3 linked regions of the Homo sapiens genome follow. The protein of the gene in region 3 purifies or fractionates together with the protein of the main gene of each other region. This does not show direct contact. Each region holds a gene or a part of one and is shown on either strand. Other genes may lie near its edges.

What was found.
Region 1: the proteins of ADCY2 (region 3) and ANKMY2 purify together in Homo sapiens (affinity purification with mass spectrometry; one large-scale study listed by BioGRID and IntAct). This does not show direct contact.
Region 2: the proteins of ADCY2 (region 3) and GDE1 purify together in Homo sapiens (affinity purification with mass spectrometry; one large-scale study listed by BioGRID and IntAct). This does not show direct contact.

The regions. Positions count from the first base shown.
Region 1 is NC_000007.14:16,635,625-16,639,280, reverse strand, and holds part of ANKMY2 (ankyrin repeat and MYND domain-containing protein 2), read left to right. Parts: intron 1-2,825; coding exon 2,826-2,890; intron 2,891-3,656. UniProt on the Homo sapiens protein: May be involved in the trafficking of signaling proteins to the cilia.
Region 2 is NC_000016.10:19,508,498-19,512,153, forward strand, and holds part of GDE1 (glycerophosphodiester phosphodiesterase 1), read right to left. Parts: intron 2,448-3,656; coding exon 2,342-2,447; intron 1-2,341. UniProt on the Homo sapiens protein: Hydrolyzes the phosphodiester bond of glycerophosphodiesters such as glycerophosphoinositol (GroPIns) and glycerophosphoethanolamine (GroPEth), to yield a glycerol phosphate and an alcohol.
Region 3 is NC_000005.10:7,710,500-7,714,155, forward strand, and holds part of ADCY2 (adenylate cyclase type 2), read left to right. Parts: intron 1-2,356; coding exon 2,357-2,400; intron 2,401-3,656. UniProt on the Homo sapiens protein: Catalyzes the formation of the signaling molecule cAMP in response to G-protein signaling. Down-stream signaling cascades mediate changes in gene expression patterns and lead to increased IL6 production.

The sequences.
Region 1 (3,656 bases), on a different chromosome or scaffold from region 3:
GCAATTAATCTTTTACACTTACTTGTAAAATATTATTTAAGTCTACTATGGACAGTAGGAATGACATAAAGTAAAAATCCTTCTGTGTGAGCCATGTGTTTCACATTTCCATGCTATTCTGGACCTTCTATAATTTCCGACTAATGTCATTACATTGTGAACACCGAATTGGAAATCATCACAGTTTTTCCTCTTGGAGTGTTTTGCTCATCCATGTTCCAAATCTATTTTTACCCTCTAGAAGCCCAATCTGTTTCAGATTATTTTTCTCATTCCAGCCCCTGCATTTCAAAAGGCTAACCTTAGTGTGATTGTGGGTACGTGTACATGTAGGATATAATAAGAAATATCTATTTGGTCTCTGCCACTGGCTCCTAACACAGAGCTCCTAAAACCCTTATAATCTCCTGAACAATGGGGTGCTAGGTGCATCTATTGTTCTAATATTTGGTCTTTGACCCTGGTACCTGACACAGAGTTTCTAATCCCTTGGAATTTCCTGGGCGTTAGAAATGTCTTTTGTTCTAATGAGGCGACTGTTGGATAGCTTCAGGATGGGGGCTGGTCATGAGAAAGTCCAAGCCATGATTAGAAGGTTGAATTTTTCAACTCCACCCCTCCCCGCATCTTCAGGAAAGGGAGAGGAGCTGAAGACTGACTTAATAATAGGTCACACCTATGTAATCAAGCTTGCATAAATATTACTGAACTACAGGTTGCAGAGAGCTTCCAGATTGCTGAACTCGTGGAAGTTCTTGGAAGAATGAGTGCCTGGAAAGAGCATGGAATCTCTGTGCCAAGTGCCACATACCTTGCTCTTTGCCCCTCTTCCATCTGGCTGTTCATCTTTGTCCTTTGTAATATTATTTGTAATTGATGGGTAAATGTAAGTAGTGTTTCCCTGAGTTCTGTGAGCTGTCCTAGCAAATTATGGAACCTGAGGAGGGGATCATGGGAACCCTGATTTATAGCCAGTCAGAAGTACAGGGGCTTATGATTGGCATCTGAAGTGGGGACGGTCTTGTGGACTGAGCCCTTGACCTGTAAGATCTGACTAACTTTAGATAAACAATGTTAGAAATGAGTTAAATTATAGGATACCCCATTGGTGTCCAATGGAGAATTGCTTGGTGTTTATGGGGGAAACCCCATATATCTGGTGTCAGAAGTGAAGGATTGAGACTATTGAGTGAGAGTTAAGCAGGAGAGAACAGTTTGTTTTCCATTATACATGCATCATCTTTAAAATATATTGTTCCCTTACAGAATATGTTAACTTAGATTGTTGGCTATTTGGCAAACACCTTAGAGAATTATCAGCCTGTTCTCTAATGAGAGCCAAATGTTTATGATCTTAATCCCCATTCTACTCTTCCCATGTAGCAGGTTTTGACATGCTTACAATCACTATAGTATTCTCCCTTTCTTGCAAAAACATCTCTTGGGCAGATAGAAAAAGAAAATAACTTTGGTTCTCAGTAGAGAATGGGATTTGGATGAAGCATCTTCCTCAAGAGAAACTGGGGTGCGGGGTTTTTGTTCTGGTTTTATTCTTCTATAAAGATTTTTGAGAAAGTCTCTGATGAGAAGACACAGATACGAATAAGGTTTCATGTAGAACTGGCTCGCATGCTCACACACACAAGAGCTTTGCCCTTGCATAGCGATTCAGCCAGTGATACTAACTGCTTTCAGATGGAATACAGGGTCAGAAAAATGCATTATTTATAAAAAAAATAGCTGCTATCATACTCCAGGGACGTGTAGATCATTCACTTGACATTTTCCCAACAGAGCTACTTCTCTATCTAGGAGATGTTTCTGTTTTTTCTCTGTTGGTGAGGGGAACTCAGGTGACTTGCTTAAGAAGTGGGTCAGAGAGAAAAAAGCATGCTAATCTTTATTTTGCATTTCACCTTTAACTCTAGAAGGCTAGCAGAGTTTAGCACAGTCTTGCACTACAAGTCTAAATTTAAAGAGAGGAAATAACCTGATTGGGAGACTTACCTATTCTTTTATGTTCTTTTATAGGAGAGGCTTATCTTAGCCTTTCTCCCTCAGCACATTCAATTTCATTCTTCTCTTCCCAGTAAAACCAGAAATTTCTTGGCAAAATGTGTGGCTGGCTTGTACTAATGATAATAGCAACATTCTCTCCTGCAAGTATGCTTCTGTCATTATGCCTTATAGAAGACTGGAAAAACCTGACAACTTTGGCCCAATTATAGCTTCTTTCCAAATTTACAGAGGAGTGACCTTAAGGTTTACATTAGTTGACTTTCAGGGTGGTGAGTACTGATCATAGAGCACTGTAATGTAGTACTAGGCATTGAAGATGTGTTTCACCTAAGTATTTCCAAACCAAGCACTCTATTATAAATATGTCATCAATTCACAAGATGTGGTGCTGACAAATTATATAAATACTGACTGCATTTTGAATTCCAAGTATTACATTGACTGGAATTTAAGCTTCAGATGGTGATTTGGATTAGATACCCTTTAAGATTTTTTTTCAGTATTAAGTCTTATGCTTTGTGGTTATTGTATTACCGCCAAAAGGAAAATGTGGCCAATGTAATATACTTTAAGGTCAGTGAAAATAAAAACAAGATGGAGCTATTTTTAGTTTCTGTAAATCTATTCTACTGGACAATTACTTTGTAAAATAAATAGTATGTGATTGGATGTTTCATTTCTTAGCAACCTACACTGACTAGATGTACTCTTACAGATAACTCCTTAAGGTTTATTTCCTTGATGTTAGATTTTTCTCTTATTCTAGTGACGAATAACCTTACTTTTCATCTTTTTTTTTTTTTTAGGTACTGTCCAAGAAGCTGGAACATTATTATCCAGCAAGAATGTTCGTGTCAACTGTTTGGACGAGGTAAGATTTTAGAAGTTTAATAAAGGATTTTACTTCCTATAAGAAGAGATAATATATCCTTTTTTTTTTTTTTTTTTTTTTTTTTTTTGAGATGGAGTGTTGCTCTTTCGCCCAGGCTGGAATGCAGTGGCACAATTTTGGCTCACTGCAACCTCCGCCTTCTTGTTTCAAGTGATTCTCCTGCCTCAGCCGCCCAAGTAGCTGGGATTACAGTCACCCACCACCACTCCTGAGTAATTTTTCTATTTTTAGTAGAGACAGGGTTTCACTATATTCACCTGGCTGAGCTCGAACCCTGACCTCATGATCCTCCTGCCTTGGCCTCCCAAAGTGCTGGGATTATAGGCATGAGCCACCACGCTCAGCCTTCAAATCTCTTAATACAAGTTTTTTTTCTAGCATTTTTGCTCATATTACACTAATAATTCCTAAACTAAATGTAAGCAAATAGGTCATAAAAGAAAAATAAGCATGTAAAAATAGTTTAGTCTTATTAGTAATCAAATAAGTGCAAATAAAGTCAAAATCATATTATTTCTTGTCAAGCATGGGGAAAAATGGACTTTTAAATGCTAATGGTTAAGTGTAAATTGATGTACTATTCTGTAGAAAATTTTGGAATATGTATCAATTTTAACTGAGTATATTATTTGATCCAGCAACTTCAGTTCTAGGGAAAGTTAAGTGAACCTAAACTCAATTTCCTAGAATAGTTGCTTCTAAAATAAGTTTTGGAAATGGTGGTAACATCTGAGCATTACAGTAG
Region 2 (3,656 bases), on a different chromosome or scaffold from region 3:
TTTTGGAATGTTACACATACCCCTAACCAAATATGATGAGCAAAATGCATTCCCCCACCAAAATAAAAAAGGACACAAATTATCCATGTCATGCCTCCTCTTCGCTAATGCAACTGAAGGCAAGCTATAGAAAGCATTTTTTTTTCTGTTTGAACAAAGACATGCACTGTAAACTCTTAGCATTTACATTATTTAATTCTCACAACAACCTTATGTGGTAACTGCTTTTAGTATCCCCATTTTACCCATGAAGAAACTGAAGCTCATCAAAGTTAAGGTTACCCTGTAGTAAGAGCTCAGTCAAGGACTGTTGGAGTCCCAAGCCCATGATTTTGGCCACTGTGCTCTACTAGCTCCACTTTGTTGCCTACACTTGTGCCTTTCTACTACCATCTTGGTGAATTAGGTCACTATGTTCTACCCAGTCTTGGCTGAACACCCATGAGCACCCATTCAGAAGACTCAAATAGCTAGATTTTCTTTTTTAAATGTCTACTTCTTTTTAAAAAGTATTCTAAGAGAAGCCAGGCGTGGTGGCTCACACCTGTAATCCCAGCACTTTGGGAGGCCAAGGTGGGCGGATCACTCGAGGCCAGGAGTTTGAGACCAGCCTGGCCAACATGGCAAAACCCCATCTCTACTAAATATACAAAAATTAGCCGGGTGTGATGGCACATGCCTCTAATCTCAGCTGCTTGGGAGGCTGAGGCAGGAGAATTGCTTGAACCCCGGAGGCAGAGGTTGCATTGAGCCGAGATCGCGCCAATGCACTCCAGCCTAGGTGACAGAGTGAGACTCTGTCTCAAAAAATCTAAGAGAATAAGCATAAAAGTCAGTATACCATGGGTGAAATGTAGGACCTATCAGGGTTCCCAAATGTGGGCTGCAACATCAACAATGAGCACCTGAGGTGCTCATTAAAAATACATGTTCCTTGAGCCCACCCTAGACATTTTCAGAATCTCTTCCCTAGGGAGAATGGCCCAGGAATTTATATTTTAAAATAGGTACAGGTGATTCTAACGCAGACCAATTGGAAAACCTAGACGTATACAACTATCGGTTTACTAGAATAATAAATTAGTTACCATTATCTTCCTTCTTCAAAAATAGGAATTAACTGTTAATAAAATTAGAGTGTATACTTAGGCTCCACATTTCAGGTTTTTTTTTTTTTTTTGAGACGGAGTCTCGCTCTGTCACCCAGGCTGGAGTACTACTGGCGCAATCTCGGCTCAGTGCAACCTCTGTCTCCCCGGTTCAAGCGATTCTCCTGCCTCAGCCTCCCGAGTAGCTGGGATTACAGGTGCCCGCCACCAAGTCCAGCTAATTTTTGTATTTTTAGTGGAGACAGGGGTTTCACCATGTTGGCCAGGCTGGTCTCGAACTCCTGACCTCAGGTGATCCACTCCCAAAGTGCTGGGATTACAGGTGTGAGCCACTGCACCCGGCCCATTTTGGGTTTTAACAACTGGTTTCAATGATATCATGGGATTAATTAAAAAAAAAAATTGGCATCATCAGAATTCTCAACCAGTAGATGGCCCTTACCGATTATTAATATTGCTAGGGGAAAAATACTCAAGTTGCCCAAATGGGGAAAAAAGTACTTGCACTTGAAAAGCTGGTTATAAGAGAACAAATGTAATCAGAATCATATCTTCCCACTGATTTTCACTGTAATAATATGTTCTTATGAGTGTAAGTGCAGGCCCTAAAATTTAAGCAAAATTTTATCTAGGAATGTCAAATACATTTGAAGAAAATAAATGATTTTCTGATAAAAGTATAACTGCTAAAATCAATGAATAAAAAACTATACATAAGGGATATAAATTATACAAAGGGATAAATCTATGTAAAAGGTATATGTTCTGTTAACTATTAGAAGCTTTTAATATAGGAATTCTCTTTAAATGCAGTCCATAGTTGTCCATATAAGGCCCTTAACTTTTAAGCTAGATAAAATTGGTCTTGTGTACAACTTCGGAATTCCTTTTTTTCAAGTAACTCAAGGTTACTACAGTGGTTTTTTTCTAGAAATGTCTTTTTTACTGTTTACTTAATATCTTTTGTAAATGCTTTATGTAAATAATAGAAACTTGACTCTTCCATTTTATGCTGGTTTTGTAAAGTTTCCATAAAAGGTTAAAAAGTTCCATAATGCACTGTTTCCTTAAATGATATAGATTCCTGCATTGTACACTTCCATTAAACAAATACAATTTATAAAAATAAGTTTTAAAAAGAATAAATAACAAAATATATGTAACTTCGGAAATGACCGTCAATGAAATAAGATGTCTTTTTAACAAAGTGAAGTCCACAATTTAAACTGTACCTTGTGTGCATGGCCTTTGACATCAAAGAAGATTGTGAGGTTATGGTTTAGGCACTCTGCAACAGCTTCCCTTAGGGTAGGGATCTTTTCATCAGGGAAATCATTCCTGTAAGAGAAGAGAAAATACGTTGTAGGAAAAAAGAGAAACAGATAAACTGTATTGCAACAAACATTTTGCATATGTCTCTCAATCAAAAGGAAAGAGTGTTTTCTCCAACTTCCTTTTTTCGACCATAGCAAAGTCCAAAGATACTTTACTTTAAGATTTTTTTTTTTTTTTTTGAGACGGAGTCTTGCTCTGTTGCCCAGCCTGGAGTGCAGTGGTGCAATCTCAGCTCACTGGAACTACCAACTCCCAGGTTCAAGCAATTCTCCCGCCCCAGCCTCCCAAGTAGCTAGGACTACAGGCGTGTGACACCACGCCTGGCTAATTTTTTGTGTTTTTAGTAGAGGCGGGGTTTCACCATGGTGGCCAGGCTGGTCTTGAACTCCTGACCTCAAGTGATCTACCTGCCTTGGCCTCCCAAAGTGCTAGGATTACAGGTGTGAGCCACTGCGCCTGTCCTACTGTAATAATTTGAACCAAATTATAGATATTCTTTTTTCCACATTTTTATTGCTATACACTTAGACATATTTTTGTGATATGCGCATAATGTATAATGATAAAATCAGGGTATTTAGGATGTCCATCACCCCAAATATTTATCATTTCTTTGTGTTAGGAACATCTAAATCTCCTAGCTATTTTGAAATATACAACAGATTGTTAACTATAATCACTTTACTATGTTATTGAACACTAGAATTTATACCTTCTATCGAACTGTATGTTTGTACTCATTAACCAAATTCTCCTTATTCTCCTCTTCCCCCAACCCCAAACCCTTCCCAGCCTCTGGTAACTATCATTCTCCTCTCTACCTCCATGAGATCAACTTTTTTAGCTCCCATATATGAGTGACAACATGTAATATTTGCCTTTCTGTGCCTGGCTTATCTTATTTCATTTAACATAATACCTTCAGTTCCATCCATGTTGCTGTAAATGACAGGATATCATCCTTTTTTATGGCTAACTACATAGTATTCCATTGAGTATATTTACCACAGTTTATCCATTCATCCACTGATGAACACTTAGGTTGATTCTGTATCTTGGCTATTGTGAATAGTGTTGCAATAAACATGGGGGTGCAAGTATGCCTTTGATACACTAGTTTCCTTTCTTTTGGATAGATACCAACTAGTGGGATTACTGGATTGTATGGTAGTTCTATATTTTTAGTTTTTTGAGAAACCTCCATACTGTTTT
Region 3 (3,656 bases):
GGTCAGCTGAGGGAGTCTCAGAGGGAGAAATGAGTGAATAGGAAGAGGAGGTGGCAGAAGAACAAAGTCAGTGGCGCAAAGATGAAAGTGAGTGTGGTGTCCCCTGGAGACAGAGAGGAAGCTGCTGTGGCTGGAGCATCATGAACAATGAGCAAAGGGAGGTCATGGGGTGAGATGCACCACGGTAAATTTTATATTGCATTCTGTGTGCAATTGGAAGTCATGGAGAATCTTAGCAAGGGAGGGTCATGATATAATTTAGGCTTTGGAATAATGGAGCAAGACTGCAGGGGTCCCCGGTGAGAATGATACCCCCTTATTCTAAGAGTTTAGCAGTGGAAGCAACGAGAAGCAAATTCAGGGGCTAACGTGAAAGTAGAGCCAATAAGACTTGGTGATGGATTGGATATGCATGAACATTAGGAACAGAGATGAATCCAAACTTTTTGGCCCCACAGCTGGAACAATGATGATGCCATTAATTGAGATGACAAATACAAGGGGGAAACCAGATTATTTAAGATGGAAAATTAAGACTTTTCTGCTGGACCGCTTCTAACCTATAGTTAAGTGCAGTGAGGATGTAGACGGTTGGATCTGCAAGTCTAGAACTCACGGGACAGGTCCAAGATGGAGGCATGAATGTGAACGTGATCAGGTTGTAGATGACATTTGAAGCCATGAGACTAGATAAAATCATCAAGAAGAGAACAATCCAAGGTGGGAGGCCTGGGGCAGCTGGGGCCTTCCAGCATTTAGATCTGTTAGAGAAACAGCATCCTAGGACTCCAGTATCCAACCAGTGAAAGCCTATGTTTCTGTCACTCATGAAAAACAGTAATTTGGATAAGTTAGCCTCAGTCTTGCTAGTTAGTGCTGTGTCTGATAACTCCATTTCCCATTGGGATTTATTGTACATCAGCAATTGGTTGGTTGGTTGGTTTTTAAGGAATAAGAATCATATATAAATAGTCGAATGTGATTTCCTGTGCTGTTTTTCATGTGTTCCTGTGGGGAAAAGGCTTACTTTTCCAGGTATATTGTTGTTGTTGTTTATTTCTTATCAGCCTTTATTGTCTTAAGACTTAAGAGTGACTGTCTCTTTTATTATCTGAGCGTAGGATCCAGGAATGGTTTCAGTCTGACTTTAATCTGATGCTATGTGTTGATGAAGATGCCTTCTTCAAGATATGGCCAGAACTGTTGAGTGCCTCAACTTCAGAAATTTGTTTATAAAAATCAAAGGACCTCTTGAACGAACTCTATTTTCTTAACCGTCTGGTCCCACCTGTTGCAGATTCAAAGCCAGGCTTGGATTGCCTTAGTAGCAGTATAGCATACTTTAAGAAAGCCCCAAGTTTTTGGTGATGCATTAAGCCCAAACCACTTTGACTTAACTGTGTGTCTCACTCACTTTCAGAAAGACCTCACTGGAGTTTTCACTCATAAATCCCAGGGTCAAACAACTGACATTGCTGAAAGTGATTCCTTTATCTAATCCCCTATACAGAACTCCATTCACTCTTGATTCAACATTGATAGAGCTCTTGAATAATACAGTACTTTACTGTATGGAATGAAACTTGGAGCTCAATCACTTTTTCAAAAAAATCTTTCCTTTCCGTAGGCTAAATCCATATCTTAATATAACCTTGGAAATGAAAGCAGCAAACCAAAGTTTCTTTGGAGCAGTTTTGTTCCAACTTTTATTTTCATTCCCACTATAAATGTGTAAAGGCAATCTTTCCTTGAAAGCCTATTATTGAATATTTGACAGTGGCTTTTCCACTTATAAATTCTGTCTCTCTTCCATTTCTCTTGGGAACTACCAGCGCTCCTTTGCCGATTTCTTCATTTTGTCCAATGGTTTGTGATTTCACATACTTAACCAATGGTACTGTTTCTTAACGCCCCAGTTCAGTGATGGGGATGACTACAGATTTTGTGGTTATATTTTTGTTCTTTCTACAGCATTTTCTAATATTTGTCTGATACCAAAGTCCATTTTCACATGGTCATAGGTTACTGATGGTAACTCTGATATCAGTCGCCGGCAGGCCACTGTTTGAAATCAGATCTGATAATACAGGCTATAAATCTTAAAACTCCAGACAACAATCCTCATGCTTCTAGCATCCAGAGTTTAGAGATTACAGCAACATTCCAAAGATAAACTGAGTTTACAACTTGATTCACACTTAGGATTAAGCTCTTTTTCTCCACATGAGTAATTAATTATTTGTTAGTTAAATGTTACTGTCCATGATAAAAGAGGAAATATGTTTCACCTAATTATCATTGCAACATTCTTCTTGAAACATGTTTTGACAATTAATAACCTTTTTTCTCAATATAGGATGTACCCATGGGTCAGCATAATTTTCAAAATCGCACCTTAAGGTATGGTATCTCTCTATCTGATTTTTTAAAGCTTATTGCTCTTTATTCATTTCTGAGAGTAATTATCATCAATTATGGTAATTTCAAGGGCTACTTCTGAAAGAGCAGCTCCCCCTGAAAAGCCCTATTAAATTGCTTTCAGCTTCTAAAAATAGAATCATTGGGGTCTTATTGTTAGAATTGAGAGAGGGAGAAAGAAAACACCACCTGGTACTCATTTTAGAATGTTAAACTGTTTTCCTAAAGAGACTCTTCTTAATATTAATGTGTGGTAAAAAAAAAAGTGAATTGTCTTAAAATGGGTATGTTGCTTACAATTACATTTTTCTGCCTGTAATCCCAGCACTTTGGGAGGCTGAGGCGGGTGGATCACTTGAGATCAGGAGTTTGAGACCAGCCTGGCCAACATAACAAAACCACGTCTCTACTAAAAATACAAAAAAAATTAGCTGGGTGTTGTGGCATATGCCTGTAATCCCAGCTACTCGGGAGGCTGAGGCATGAGAATCACTTCAACGCGGGAGGCAGAGGTTACAGTGAGCCGAGATCGTGCCACTACACTCTAGCCTGGTCGACAGAGTGAAACTGTGTCTCAGAAAAAAAAAAAATAAAAAGAAAAAAGTTACACTTTTCTGTTGAATTCTAAAGGTAAAAGCAGGATAAATCCAGTCTGTCTATAGTGAAATAAAGGGTTATCCACTCTGCTCAAAAAAAGAGAAAAGTTTCCCACAAATGTCTCCACACGCCCTGTCGCAGCCACCGTAAAATCCCAGGCACCAACTCCTTTTTTCCCCTGTTCCTCTATCTTTCGGGCACAGAGTTTTACTTTAATATTGGTTTGGGAGTTAATCAAATCAATATTAGGACATTCAGATAACCAGTGTAAGATGTAGTTCCAAACCCTAAGCCAGGCTTTCTTTCTCCCCAGAGAGGTCAATTTATTGGAGCTATTGATAGTTTTATAGAAACTAAGGAAAAATATGAGATCTGACCTATTTTCTATAGAAAAGGAATTGTACCCAAGTAAAAATGAAACATAGGTTGTAACCTGCTGAAACAAGGCAACAGGGCACATTAGCCCAGGATCCTTCTAAGTGACCGTTGGGATGAGCTCTAATTTGGACTTCATGCAAAATTTGACATTTTAACATTGAGATATAACATTCATAGTCTTTATGTTATGAGGATAATTTGGTTCTTGAGCTTTTGAAGCATTATAATTAAGTGGCATATACTGTAATAAAGAGAACTTAAGC